2 linked regions of the Homo sapiens genome follow. The protein of the gene in region 1 interacts with the protein of each later gene in a biochemical or structural test. Each region holds a gene or a part of one and is shown in the gene's direction. Other genes may lie near its edges.

Evidence for each region. Proteins that work in one complex are often made in the same cells at the same time.
Region 2: the proteins of PTGES3 (region 1) and HSF1 form a complex in vitro, tested with the Homo sapiens proteins (2 studies listed by BioGRID).

The regions. Positions count from the first base shown.
Region 1 is NC_000012.12:56,678,283-56,685,306, reverse strand, and holds part of PTGES3 (prostaglandin E synthase 3), read left to right. Parts: intron 1-7,024. UniProt on the Homo sapiens protein: Cytosolic prostaglandin synthase that catalyzes the oxidoreduction of prostaglandin endoperoxide H2 (PGH2) to prostaglandin E2 (PGE2).
Region 2 is NC_000008.11:144,308,580-144,315,220, forward strand, and holds the end of HSF1 (heat shock factor protein 1), read left to right. Parts: exon of another isoform or gene 1-326; coding exon 327-435; intron 436-875; coding exon 876-1,012; intron 1,013-1,192; coding exon 1,193-1,317; intron 1,318-2,594; coding exon 2,595-2,670; intron 2,671-2,741; coding exon 2,742-2,803; intron 2,804-2,925; coding exon 2,926-3,022; intron 3,023-3,120; coding exon 3,121-3,257; coding exon of another isoform or gene 3,258-3,298; intron 3,299-3,383; coding exon 3,384-3,665; intron 3,666-4,048; coding exon of another isoform or gene 4,049-4,132; intron 4,133-4,931; coding exon 4,932-5,037; intron 5,038-5,266; coding exon 5,267-5,332; intron 5,333-5,405; coding exon 5,406-5,475; intron 5,476-5,545; coding exon 5,546-5,751; 3' UTR 5,752-6,141; downstream 6,142-6,641. UniProt on the Homo sapiens protein: Functions as a stress-inducible and DNA-binding transcription factor that plays a central role in the transcriptional activation of the heat shock response (HSR), leading to the expression of a large class of molecular chaperones, heat shock proteins (HSPs), that protect cells from cellular insult damage.

The DNA.
Region 1 (7,024 bases):
AAATATTCTTTTAAAAATAATATATGCCGTTTAGTAAATTCTTCAGGGACTCTTAACAAGCTAAAGACTTAAATTTTAAAATGAAAGTTGTAAGTCAGTTATTTGAAGTGGAAGAAGCCTTTAATGGGTCGTCATCCAGTCTTAAGAATCTGGCTGATAAGGGTTTATTTTGTTGATAACTTGTTTTAAAAGTGTTTTTTTTGGAGACAGGGTCTTCCTCTGTCACCCAGGCTGGAGTGCAGCTGCAACCTCTACCTCCCGGGCTCAAGCGATCCTCCTTGCCTCAGTCTCCCGAGTAGCTGGGACTGCAGGCAAGCACCACCATGCCTGGCTAATAAATTTTTTTTAAGCTCTGGGGAGAGAGAGATTTATGCTGGGTGTCTTAAAGGCTTGGGAGTGTGTTTTCTCATTTGATTTACTCATTTGCTCTTCAGCGATTTCGTAGTTACATTTCTTTAAATCCTAAGTTATAAAAGTTTGTCTCATAATTTACATAAAAGCTCTTAATTTCGGACCTATCTTGGAGAAGGCTGGGATTTTTAGGACCTTCCCCCACTTAAGATTTTCCGCTTAACTAACCTTGCCAGAGGGTGCTACTTCGCATTTTCTTTTTGAATCATTGTCGTTCGACCGATTAAAAATAGAGAAAAAGTAAAATGTTTTATTTATTTTAGAGATGTTGGAAGTTGTTGTTTTTCCTGTCTAATGTCTTGTATATAATTAGGAAGTTGTCCAGAAACTTGCGTCTCTGATTTTGGTAAAAATCTTCCTGTCATTCAGCTGTGTAGGAACGAATCTCCAAAATAAAATTGTCCATCTTTAGCCTGCAAAACAAATTGTCGTAGTGAACATATGCTATATTGTTAATTGCTATAACTTGAGTATCTGATGGTGGGTGGCCTTTGTTCAGTATTGATTTCCTGTGCACTGTAACCTGGCAACTGGATTTTTAATTTTTCTTCCTGTGTTCAGTTAGACTTTAACTAGAAGGCAGTAGAAACTGGAAGTGAAAAATTTCTTGAGTGCAAGCCAGTGTTTTATTGCTAAATTAAGATTCTCCTGACTAATTGGATTTTCTCGGTTTAAAAATCTACAAGCTATCATTTTTGGGTCTTGTGGTTAGCGATTGTCTCTTTTCAGGGGAAAAAAAACCTTTGTAAATATCAACTGTTCAGAACCAATCTCGCTGTTAAACACCTAAGATCATATTTACGTGAGCTCAAAAAATACTCTAGTGAGCATATTTTGCTATGGAAATAGTGTATTGAACTTTTTACTATTTACTGTGTGGATCGGCAATTACAGTTTTGGGGTTTTTTTTGTTTGTTTTTTTTGTTTTTTTTTTTTTTGAGACGGAGTTTCGCTGTCGCCCAGGCTGGAGTGCAGTGGCGCGATCTCGGCTCACTGCAGGCTCCGCCCCCTGGGGTTCACGCCATTCTCTTGCCTCAGCCTCCCGAGTAGCTGGGACTACAGGCACCCGCCACCTCGCCCGGCTAATTTTTTGTATTTTTAGTAGAGACGGGGTTTCACCGTGTTAGCCAGAATGGTCTCGATCTCCTGATCTCGTGATCCGCCTGCCTCGGCCTCCCAAAGTGCTGGGATTACAGGCGTGAGCCACCGCGCCCGGCCCATAGTTTTGGTTTTTGTTTGTTTTTTTGAGATGGAGTCTGGCTCTGTCGCCCAGGCTGGAGTGAACTGGTGCGATCTCGGCTCACTGCAACCTCCGCCTTCTGGGTTGAAGTAGTTCTCTGCCTCAGCTTCCTGAGTAGCTGGGATTCCAGGTGCCTGCCGCCATGCCTGGCTAATTTTTTTTTTTTTTTTTTTTTTTTTTTTGAGACAGAGTTTCTCTCTTGTTGCCCAGGCTGAAGTGCAATGTCACGGTCTCGGCTCACCGCAACCTCCGCCTCCTGTGTTCAAGCAATTCTCCTGCCTCAGCCTCCCGGGTAGCTGCGATCACAGGCATGCGCCACCATGCCCGGCTAATTAGTAGAGATGGGGTTTCTCCATGTTGGTCAGGCTGGTCTCAAACTCCCGACTTCAGGTGATCACCCGCCTCGGCCTCAGAAAGTGCTGGGATTACAGGTGTGAGCCACTGCATCTGGCCTAATTTTATATATTTTTAGTAGCGATGGGGTTTCACCATCTTGGCCAGGCTGGTCTTGAACTCCTGACCTCATGATCCACGCGCCTCAGACTCCTAGAGTGCTGGGATTACAGGCGTGAGCTACTGCCGCAGCCGGCAATGATAGATTCTAGAATGAGGCTGCTTCCCTGCTTCCTCGGTATACCTTTGTAAATTTTTTTTTTTTTCTTGAGGCGGAGTCTCATTCTGTTGCCCAGACTGCAGTGCAGTGGCGCGATCTTGGCTCACTGCAACCTCTGCCTCCTAGGTTCAAGCGATTCTCCTCTCTCAGACTCCCAAGTAGCTGGGACTACAGGCATGTGCCGCTATGCCCAGCTAATTTTTTGTATTTTAGTAGAAATGGGGTTTCGCCGTTTTGCTCAGGCAATCATCCCACCTTGGCCTTCCAAAGTGCTAGGATTACAGGTGTGAGCCACCACGCCCGGCCTTTTTTTTTTTTTTTCTTTTAAATGGAGACGGGATCTTACCGTGTTGTCCAGGTTGGTCTTGAACTCCTGGGCTCAAGTGATCTTCCTCCCAAAGTCCTGGGTTTACAGGTGTGAGCTGCTGCACCCGATCCTTGGTATACCTTTGAACTTGCGGTTTTCCGGGAATATTTCTTCTTTTCTGAGACACTGTCTCACTACTTTGCCCAGGCTGGAGTGCAGTGGTGTCATCACTGTCTGCAGCCTCAAACTTGGGATCAAGCCATCCTCCTGCCTTGGTCCCCCAGTAGTTGGGACTACAGGTGTGCACCACCACACCCAGCTAACTTAATTTTTTTTAGAGACGGGGGTCTCACAATGTTGCTAAGGCTTATCTTGTCTCAAACTCTTGGGCTCAAGCAGTCTTCCCTCCTCAGCCTCCCAGAGTGCTGGAATTGGAGCCACTTGCTCATTGATATTTTAACTTCACCTTCAGCATATGCTCTTTTCCCATTTTGTATTCTGAAGCTGAATAAAATGTGCTGTTGGGGCTTTTCTGTGCCTCAGGTGCTCATTCACATGAAGCCACACTTCATTTGATAGTGCCAATGTCAGCTGGGCACGGTGGCTCACACATGTAATCCCAGCACTTTTGGAGGCCAAGGCGGGCAGGTCACTTGTGGTCAGGAGTTCCAGACTAGCCTGGCCAACATGGTGAAACCCTGTCTCTACTAAAAATACAAAAATTAGCTGGGCACCGTGGCGGGTGCCTGTAATCCCAGCTACTTGGGAGGCTGAGGCAGGAGAATGGTTTGAACCCAGGAGGCGAGGAGGTTGCAGTGAGCCGAGAATGCGCCACTGCTGCACTCCAGCCTGGGTTACAGAGTGAGACTCTTTTTTTTTGAGATGGAGTCTTGCTCTGTCGCCCAGGCTGGAGTGCAATGGTGTGATTTCGGCTCACTGCAAGCTCTGCCTCCTGGGTGTTCAAGCGATTCTCCTGCCTCAGCCCCCTGAGTACCTGGGATTACAGGCGCATGCCACCGTACCTGGCTAATTTTTGTATTTTTTTTTTTAAGTAGAGATGGGGTTTCGCCATGTTGGTCAGGCTGGTCTCAAATTCCTGACCTCAGGAGATCTGCCGCCTTGGCCTCCCAAAGTGCTGGGATTACAGGCATGAGCCACTGCACCCGGCTGATTCTTTTTTTTTTTTTTTTTTTTTTTTGAGATGGAGTCTCACTCTGTTGCCCAGGCTGGAGTGCAGTGGCGTGATCTTTGCTCACTGCAGGCTCCGCCTCCCGGGTTCACGCCATTCTCCTGCCTCAGCCTCCCGAGTAGCTGGGACTACAGGCTCCCGCCACCTCATCCGGCTAATTTTTTGTATTTTTAGTAGAGACGGGGTTTCACTCTGTTAGCCAGGAAGGTCTGGATCTCCTGACCTCGTGATCCGCCCTCCTCGGCCTCCCAAAGTGTTGGGATTACAGGCATGAGCCACCGCGCCCGGCCTGATTCTTAAAATACCCATTTACACAGCACTAATTTGAGAATCATAAAGGGGCTGTCCGAAATAGGATTGGGGCTGTCTGAAATAGGATTGGGGTTCACGAGATCAAGCCATTGCATTCCAGTCTGGACAACAAGAGCAAAAACTCTGTCCAAACAAAAAAACAAAACACAACTACAAATGGGGGGACCAGGTATGGTGACTCACACCTGTAATCCCAGCACTTTGGGAGGCCGGGGTGGATGCATCACCTGAGTTCAGAAGTTTGAGACCAGCCTGGGCAACAAGGTAAGACCCCATCTCTACAAAAAATAACCTGGGTGTGTGGTAGCATGTATCTGTGGTTCCATCCACCATGGAGACTGAGGTGGGAGGATCACCTGAGCCTGCGAAGTCAAGGCTGTGTGAGCTGAGATCACGCCACAGCACTCCAGCCTGAATGACAAAGCAAGAACTGGTCTCAAAAAAAAAAAAAAACTTTTAAAAAACAAAAACTACAAGTGGGTGGAGGGTGCCCTACACTTATCCTGAATCAGGAATAAACACATATGTATTCCCTCATTTGAAAGGAGAACTGGGCCAGGTGTGGTGGCTCACGCCTGTTAATCCCAGCACTTTGGGAGGCTGAAGCTGGAGGATCACCTGAGGTCAGGAGTTGGAGACCAGCCTGACCAGCGTGGTGAAACCCCATCTCTACTTAAAAAAAATTGCTAGGCCTGACGGCACATGCCTGTAACCCCAGCTACTTGGGAGGCTGAGGCAGGATAGTCGCTTGAACCTGGGAAGCAGGGGTTGCAGAGAGGCAAGATGACGCCGTTGCAGTCCAATCAGGGCAGCAAGAGTGAAACTCTGTCCCCCCAAAAAAAAAAAAAGAAAGAAAATTGGGTTGGGTGCAGTGACTCACACCTATAATCCCACCACTTTGGGGGACTGAGGTGGGCAGATCACTTGAGGCCGAGTTCGAGACCAGCCTGGCCAATATTGCAAAACCTCATCTCTACTAAAAATGTGAAAACATTAGCTAGGTGTGGTGACGCATGCCTGTAGTTCCATCTACTCATTGTGAGGCTGAGGCAGGAGGATCACCTGAACCCCGGAAGTGAAGATTGCAGTGAGCTGTGATCGCGCCATTGCACTCCAGCCTGGGCGACAGCAAGACTTTCTCAAAAAAAAAAAAAAACCAAAACCAATAAAACAAAAATGGAAAACCAGCGTTTATGAAATCTCCTTTTGCCTTCCATGAGGATTACACCATCTCTTTTTCTCCTATTAACATATGGAGAGGGCTGGGTGCGGTGGCTCATGCCTGTAATCCTAGCACTTTGGGAAGCCAAGGCAGGTGGATCACTTGAGGTCAGGAGTTAAAGATCAGCCTTGCCAACATGATGACACCTCGTCTCTACTAAAAATACAAAAATTAGCCGGGCATGGTGGCAGGCACCTGTAATCCCAGCTACTCGGGAGGCTAAGGCAGAAGAATTGCTTCAACCTGGGAGGTGGAGGTTGCGGTGAGCCAAGATCATGCCACCGTTCTCCAGCCTGTCACTCCGGGGTGACAGAGTGAGACTCCGTCTAAAAAAACAAACCCAAAACATATGGAGAGGGGGCTGAGTTTAGCTTTAACTTTAGCTTCTAAACTAATTATACTGGATTTATCTCTAGCCTTTCTGCTAACACTGGCTAAACTCATAACCATTGTGTAAGACTGTTAATTCATTTTAATAGTAATATCCCTATAGATTCAAAACTTTCCACCTCTGCATACATTATGTAAATAATCTACTTAAAGCAAAACAACAATAAACCCCACAGGCGGACATTCCATGCTTTTTTTTTTTTTTTTTTTTTTTGAGGCAGAGTCTCACTCTGTTGCCCAGGCTGGGGTGCAGCAGGGGCACATCTCAGCTCACTGTAGCCTCCGCCTCCTGGGTTCAACCGATTCTCATGTCTCAGCCTCCCAAGTAGCTGGGATTACAGGTATGCTACCATGCCCAACTAATTTTTGTATCTTCAGTAGAGACAGGGTTTTGCCATGTTGGCATGGTTGGTTTGAACTCCTGGCCTCCAGTAATCTGCCAGCCTTGGGCTCCCAAAGTGCTGATATTAGATGTGAGCCATCACTCCTGGTCTCCATGCTTCTCTAAGTCAGGGTCTTGCTATGTGGCCCAGGCTGGAGTGCAGTGGTACAACCATGCTCACTATAACCTCAAACTCCTTGTCTCAAGCAATTCTCCCACCTCAGTGCCCCCCAGTTAGCTAGGACTACAAGCATGTGTCACCATGGCCAGCGATTTTTTTCTTTTTGGCAGAGATGTGGTCTCGCAGTGTTGCCCAGGCTGGTCTTGAACTCCTGGCCCAAAATGATACTCTCACCTTGGCCTCCTAAAGTGCTAGGATTCCAGGCATGAGGCACAGTGCCCAGCCTATTCCATGCTGATGTGACAAGCATTTCTAAGCTCAATAGAAGGGCTATATATACCAATCCAAGCAATTACATTTTGCATAACCTAAAATCCTCTATAGTCCTATCTAAAAGGTCTCTTTGTTAGCCTTGAAAGGACAGAGACCGTATTTGTTCCTAAATACCATAATTTTAATATGTTAGTATCTGGTGAGTTATAACTCTAATTTATAAAACACTGCAAGCACCCTTCACTATAAAAAATTGATGCACCAAAGAAGCTAGATGGAAACAGTTTGCTAGGAAAAGTGTCCCAGTTATTTTAATCCATTTGATAGTTTTACTATGTGCAATGCACATTTTATTATAAAAGACAAAACAGGCTGGGTATGGTGGCTCACTCCTGTAATTCCAGCACTTTGGGAGGCTGAGGCGGGTGGCTCACCTGAGGTCAGGAGTTCGAGACCAGCCTGGCCAACATGGTGAAAACCTGCCTCTACTAAAAAACAAAAATTAGCCAGGCTTGGTGGCGGGCGCCTGTAATCCCAGCTACTCAAGGGACTGAGGAAGGAGAA
Region 2 (6,641 bases), on another chromosome or scaffold:
GATGCTTTGTGAGTGGAAACGTGGCCTTCTCTGGAAGCCCTGGGGAGGGGCTTTCCGACTGAGAGGAAGGCCTCGCATCTGCCCACCGCCCAGTCCTGGGCCTCACAGTGAGGATGCAGGTCACGCTGCACAGATGAGGCCCGTGTGGCAGGTGGTCCCAGGAACGAACTCGCCTCCCGCCAGCCCCCTGGGCCTCCCATGGCCCCAGCCCCATCAGGTGGAACGTGCACTGCCTGCGTTTCAGAAGGGGCGGCCTGGGGAAGGGGCGGCTTGGGCACGCTGCCCCTCACCACCACGCGTGACCCACCCATGTGTCTCCCTTTCAGAGCGGGAACAGCTTCCACGTGTTCGACCAGGGCCAGTTTGCCAAGGAGGTGCTGCCCAAGTACTTCAAGCACAACAACATGGCCAGCTTCGTGCGGCAGCTCAACATGTGTGAGTGCTGCCTCCAGGCAGCGCAGGGGTGCGGGAGGCAGACCTGCAGATGGCGGGACCCCAGCAGGAGGACCCTGTGATGAAGGACGGGGCGTCCTGTGCTGGCCAAGGGCATGGCGTGGGACCCTGCAAGCCTGGGGGCCGGGGAGCAGCCGCCTCTTCCATGGGGGAGGGTCCTTGTGGGTATGAACCTGGGGTCCCCATGGAAGAACCGTGAAGCCGGAGCTGTACTCCACGTGTGTCGGGCGCAGGGAGCCCTGTGGGGACACAGGGTCTCCCTTAGACCAAGGCCACTCGGCCACCCAGGCATGGGCTCTGAGGGGGCAGGGCAGGGTCTGACCATGGCCAAGCCCCGCAGCAGCCTCCTGGAGCAGTGGCCGCTCTTCAGGGGTTCTGGTCCCGCCCTGAGGCAGAGCTGCCCCCTTCCCTGTTATGTGCAGATGGCTTCCGGAAAGTGGTCCACATCGAGCAGGGCGGCCTGGTCAAGCCAGAGAGAGACGACACGGAGTTCCAGCACCCATGCTTCCTGCGTGGCCAGGAGCAGCTCCTTGAGAACATCAAGAGGAAAGTGACCAGTGTGAGTGCCGGCCCTGCACCCTTGCCCGGTCTCACCTGCCACAGCTCTCCCCGCCCGCCCCTCCCTGAGGGCTCCCACCCCAGCCTGCCCCTTCCTGAGGGACCTGGCTGCAGTGGACGAGCCTGAGCCTGCCAAGCTCCTAGGCTGCTCCAGTGACTCCTGTCCCTCTCGGGAATCCAGGTGTCCACCCTGAAGAGTGAAGACATAAAGATCCGCCAGGACAGCGTCACCAAGCTGCTGACGGACGTGCAGCTGATGAAGGGGAAGCAGGAGTGCATGGACTCCAAGCTCCTGGCCATGAAGCAGTAGGTCCCACACCAGCATTATGGGCCACAGCGGGTCCTGGCGCCCACCAAGAGGCCCCGGGTGCTGTGGGGGCAGGGCCCTGACCGGGGCCAGGTGCTCAGCTCCACCCTCCCGCTCCACGCACATCTACCCTGGGCCTCTGCCCCAGCCCCGCCGCCCGTGGCTGCTGCAACAGCTCTGGGGCCAGCCGTTTTCCATGTGCAGAAGGGGGTTGGGAGGGTCCCCTGCTCTGCACATCCCCAGCGCCCTCTGGGCCATTGGCTTCTGCCTGGCTCCGAGCTTGGCGGGACCCACCAGCCTACTTTTGAGGACAAGCCTTGCACAGCAGACCCGTCCCACCCGCCTCGGGCCTGGGGTCAGACCCACCTCAGGCCCTTCCTGGAACCGCTGTCCCACACTCGCCTGGGCCCATGGAGCTAGCCCCCAGCCCCTCCTCACCGGGACCCTGCGGCTCTGGGGAAACCTTAGCAGGAGCCTAACACACGGTGGCACCTGAGAAACTGAGGCAAGCCCACCTCGGAAGGCCAGCTCAGGTCTCACGTCCACTTTGGGGCTCCAGGCATGCGGGAACCCCAATGCCAGTACGGCTTCCTCGGCTCCGTGCAGCAGGCGCTCTTGACCCCCACGTCATGGAGGAGGCCTTGGCCTCAGACTCTCCTGCATGGGGTCTAGCAGGAGCCACCGGCTTTGTGATTCCTGGAGTCCGGCCACGTGGACCTGGCCTACCAAGAAGACTCACAGGCTTGACAGGGCCCAGCCTCCCAGAGCAGCAGGAGCGCGGTCATGGCCCTGCTCACCTGGCTGGGGACAGCTCTTCCCCACCCCTGAGCCACCTCCAGGCCTGGCGAGGGCCCTGAGCACCTACAGGACATGGGACAGCCAGTGTCGCAGCCTGAAGAACCGTCCTCCCTTAACCTGGCTGCTCAGGCCTTGGAAGGGCGGCCCAAGGGTCTGCTCCTGGCCTGTGTCCAAGGCAGCCCTCCAGGTGTTTGCCAGGATGGATGCCAGGATCCGGGTGCACCTGGCTCGCATGGATCCATCCCCAACACCCTACGTGACACCAGGTGTCCCCGGCAGGGAGGGGCAGTGGGACCAGCAAGCCCTGGCCCTGGCCCCCAGTCCCTCCACACACAAGTTCTCATCCTGGGGTGGGCCAGGCCAGACATGGTCACACTTACCCCTGCTCCTGCATGGGGGACAGGGAGGGTCTGTGGGGCTCCCTCAGCCCTGGGGCTCATGGGATTGGGCCCCACTGACCCAGCCTGGTCTGTTGCAGTGAGAATGAGGCTCTGTGGCGGGAGGTGGCCAGCCTTCGGCAGAAGCATGCCCAGCAACAGAAAGTCGTCAACAAGGTGGGGGCAGGGCCAGAGGGCCGGCGGGGGCCCCACAAGGGCCGGGGTAACTGTGTCCTCTCTCTCCACAGCTCATTCAGTTCCTGATCTCACTGGTGCAGTCAAACCGGATCCTGGGGGTGAAGAGAAAGATGTGAGGTTTTGGGGATGCCTGCATCCACCACCCGGGGCCCAGGGCTGTCCCCCTTCTCTGTCAGCTGTGCCCCGGGTACCCCGAGGTGGGGGGTGGTGGCTGACCTGCACCCTTCCCCACAGCCCCCTGATGCTGAACGACAGTGGCTCAGCACATTCCATGCCCAAGTATAGCCGGCAGTTCTCCCTGGAGCACGTCCACGGCTCGGGCCCCTACTCGGTGAGTGCCGGAGACAGGGCACCCGCCCAGGCATGCAGGCGGCAGTGGGGTGGGTTGCCCCTGCCGGCACTGCATGGACCTCCTGCCTTTGATTGCAGGCCCCCTCCCCAGCCTACAGCAGCTCCAGCCTCTACGCCCCTGATGCTGTGGCCAGCTCTGGACCCATCATCTCCGACATCACCGAGCTGGCTCCTGCCAGCCCCATGGCCTCCCCCGGCGGGAGCATAGACGAGAGGTGGGGGCCGCATCACCCCAGCCATCCTGTCCCCCAATGAGGCGAGCCCCTGTGGGCCCAGGGCAGAGTTGGGGATGAGGTGGGGCTGGCCGAGACGCCAGCTCACCTGGCCCCCCTCGTGTGCAGGCCCCTATCCAGCAGCCCCCTGGTGCGTGTCAAGGAGGAGCCCCCCAGCCCGCCTCAGAGCCCCCGGGTAGAGGAGGCGAGTCCCGGGCGCCCATCTTCCGTGGACACCCTCTTGTCCCCGACCGCCCTCATTGACTCCATCCTGCGGGAGAGTGAACCTGCCCCCGCCTCCGTCACAGCCCTCACGGACGCCAGGGGCCACACGGACACCGAGGGCCGGCCTCCCTCCCCCCCGCCCACCTCCACCCCTGAAAAGTGCCTCAGCGTAGCCTGCCTGGACAAGTGAGTGCCGCCCACCCCTGGCCCCACCCACAGCGCCTGGACGCACAGCCCTGGGCTTCAGCCCCGACTGTCCCAGTGGACTGAGCAGGGCAGCTGGCGAGGCAGGACCCTACCCCCAACCTCGGAGCTCGGGGCTGGGGAGGGAGACAGGTGCCAGCCAGATCACCCCACAGTCCCAAACGCCACAGAAGCCACGGGCATGTCCGGACAGGCTGCCGGGCCCTGCTCTCAGCCACCCGTCCTGCTGCCGCCACCCTCGCCACAGGCCACGGGCCCTGGCAGGTCGTGCTGCCCAGACACATGGCAGGAGATGGTGAGCAGGGCCGGCCTCCACACCCCCAGCCCCTGCCTGCAATGGGGGCTCTTGTTTTTGTATCTTGCAGTTTGGCTCGCACTCCACAGATGTCTAGGGTCGCCCGCCTCTTCCCCTGCCCCTCTTCCTCTCCGCATGGCCAAGTCCAGCCAGGGTTAGCGCTGACCCCACTGGGGAGGGAGGAGGGCTCTGCCAGCGCTCGGGCCCTCCCACACAGCCGTGGACCAGACCCAGCCTGGCCGGGCATGAGCGTCGGGCCTGGGCGGCAGCAGCCGAGACCCCTCTGTGGCGGGGGCTCAGTGTCGTCATGGCTCCCCTGGCCACGGGCCTGTGGTCATTGCCTGTGACAGGGATGACAGGGACAGGCCTCCCTGCTCTGGCACGGCCTCTGGTGTTGGCAGGATCCAGACTGCGGTGCTGACTGCACTTCCTGTCAGGCAGGGTCTCCAGGGCACCTCTGGGACCCAGCCTGGCTGTCCGTCCCATAGCCCAGGTGTGCCCTGTGGCCTAGGGCTTTCTTGGTCACAGCCACCAGACCGTGGGTCTCATCCCCACAGCAGCACCAGGGCAGGGACTGAGCCACCCACACACTGAGCAGAGCCCCACCTGTTTTCCCAGTGCAACGGGAAACCTCACCAACCCTGAACACTGAAATCCCTGATCCTTGTGCTGGAGCTGAATACGCCCCTTGTCTCCTGGGTCCACTGCCACCAAGGCCCCCAGGCCCTCATGGCAAAGGGATGCCCAGCATAGGCCCAGCCGCACCCCTGCAGGGCACAGAGCCTCCACTGCCTTCCAGGCCGTCCTCGAATGCGCTGCCCCCTCCAGCCTGTGCAGGCGTACACGGGGGTGCAGCCTGGGGGGTACAGTCAAGGGGAGCCCTTCTCCCACAGGAGGGCATTGGGGTGTGGGGCCTGGGGCACTGGTTCAGGTACCGCCTTATCCCGGGCCAGGAATGAGCTCAGTGACCACTTGGATGCTATGGACTCCAACCTGGATAACCTGCAGACCATGCTGAGCAGCCACGGCTTCAGCGTGGACACCAGTGCCCTGCTGGACGTGAGTGGAGCCCCGCCGCCCCGCCTCCCCGCCCCGCCTCCCCGCCGCGCCGCCCCGCCTCCCCGCCCCGCCTCCCCGCCTCCCCGCGCCGCCGCCCCGCCTCCCCGCCCCGCCTCCCCGCGCCTCCCCGCCTCCCCGCCCCGCCTCCCCGCCTCCCCGCCCCGCCTCCCCGCCCCGCCTCCCCGCCCCGCCCCCGGGTGCTGTTCTGACTTCCCTCCCTCCTCCGCAGCTGTTCAGCCCCTCGGTGACCGTGCCCGACATGAGCCTGCCTGACCTTGACAGCAGCCTGGCCAGTGTGCGTAGGCGGGCGGGGGGTGAGGGGGAACGAGACCAGCGGGAGTGCTCACAATACCGTCTCCACCCCACAGATCCAAGAGCTCCTGTCTCCCCAGGAGCCCCCCAGGCCTCCCGAGGCAGAGAACAGCAGCCCGGATTCAGGTGAGCCAAGTCCCACCGGCCCCACCTCTGCCCCCAACCCCCCACCGCCTTGACACCCCCACCCCCGCAGGGAAGCAGCTGGTGCACTACACAGCGCAGCCGCTGTTCCTGCTGGACCCCGGCTCCGTGGACACCGGGAGCAACGACCTGCCGGTGCTGTTTGAGCTGGGAGAGGGCTCCTACTTCTCCGAAGGGGACGGCTTCGCCGAGGACCCCACCATCTCCCTGCTGACAGGCTCGGAGCCTCCCAAAGCCAAGGACCCCACTGTCTCCTAGAGGCCCCGGAGGAGCTGGGCCAGCCGCCCACCCCCACCCCCAGTGCAGGGCTGGTCTTGGGGAGGCAGGGCAGCCTCGCGGTCTTGGGCACTGGTGGGTCGGCCGCCATAGCCCCAGTAGGACAAACGGGCTCGGGTCTGGGCAGCACCTCTGGTCAGGAGGGTCACCCTGGCCTGCCAGTCTGCCTTCCCCCAACCCCGTGTCCTGTGGTTTGGTTGGGGCTTCACAGCCACACCTGGACTGACCCTGCAGGTTGTTCATAGTCAGAATTGTATTTTGGATTTTTACACAACTGTCCCGTTCCCCGCTCCACAGAGATACACAGATATATACACACAGTGGATGGACGGACAAGACAGGCAGAGATCTATAAACAGACAGGCTCTATGCTATGGCCTCCATGTGTTTCCTCTGTCCCAGGGTGGTGCGGTGGGTGGTGCTGCAATGAGGAGGGGCCCAGGGCACAGAAGGGCCGGGCTGCAGTGGCCTCCTGGGGGAAGACGGATGCTTGCAGCTAGCTCCGTGCCTGCCCGACTCCCCAGGACCAGCATGTGCTTGCAGTTCTTTATTGAGGGACCAGGGGTGGGCGCCTCACCTTGGCCCTGGGGGTCTCTGGTTGTCACAGGACCACCAGGAACCCCCTTCCCAAGGTGTTCGCACTCGGACAGGTGATGCGGGGCGGGCACACTGTCTTTCTGCCAGAGCCAGCACCCTGTGTAGGCACGGGGAACGGGAGCCTGTCCCGTAGCTTTAGGGTTCTCCACTCAGCCTGGTGGAGGAAGGGAAGGGGGCCTGCGCTGGGCAGTGGAGCAGGCTTTGCTGCTTTATCTGGCAGCAACAGTTTGTTCTCGAGCTCCACTGGCCAACTGATAGGGAGAGGCACAGGAGCC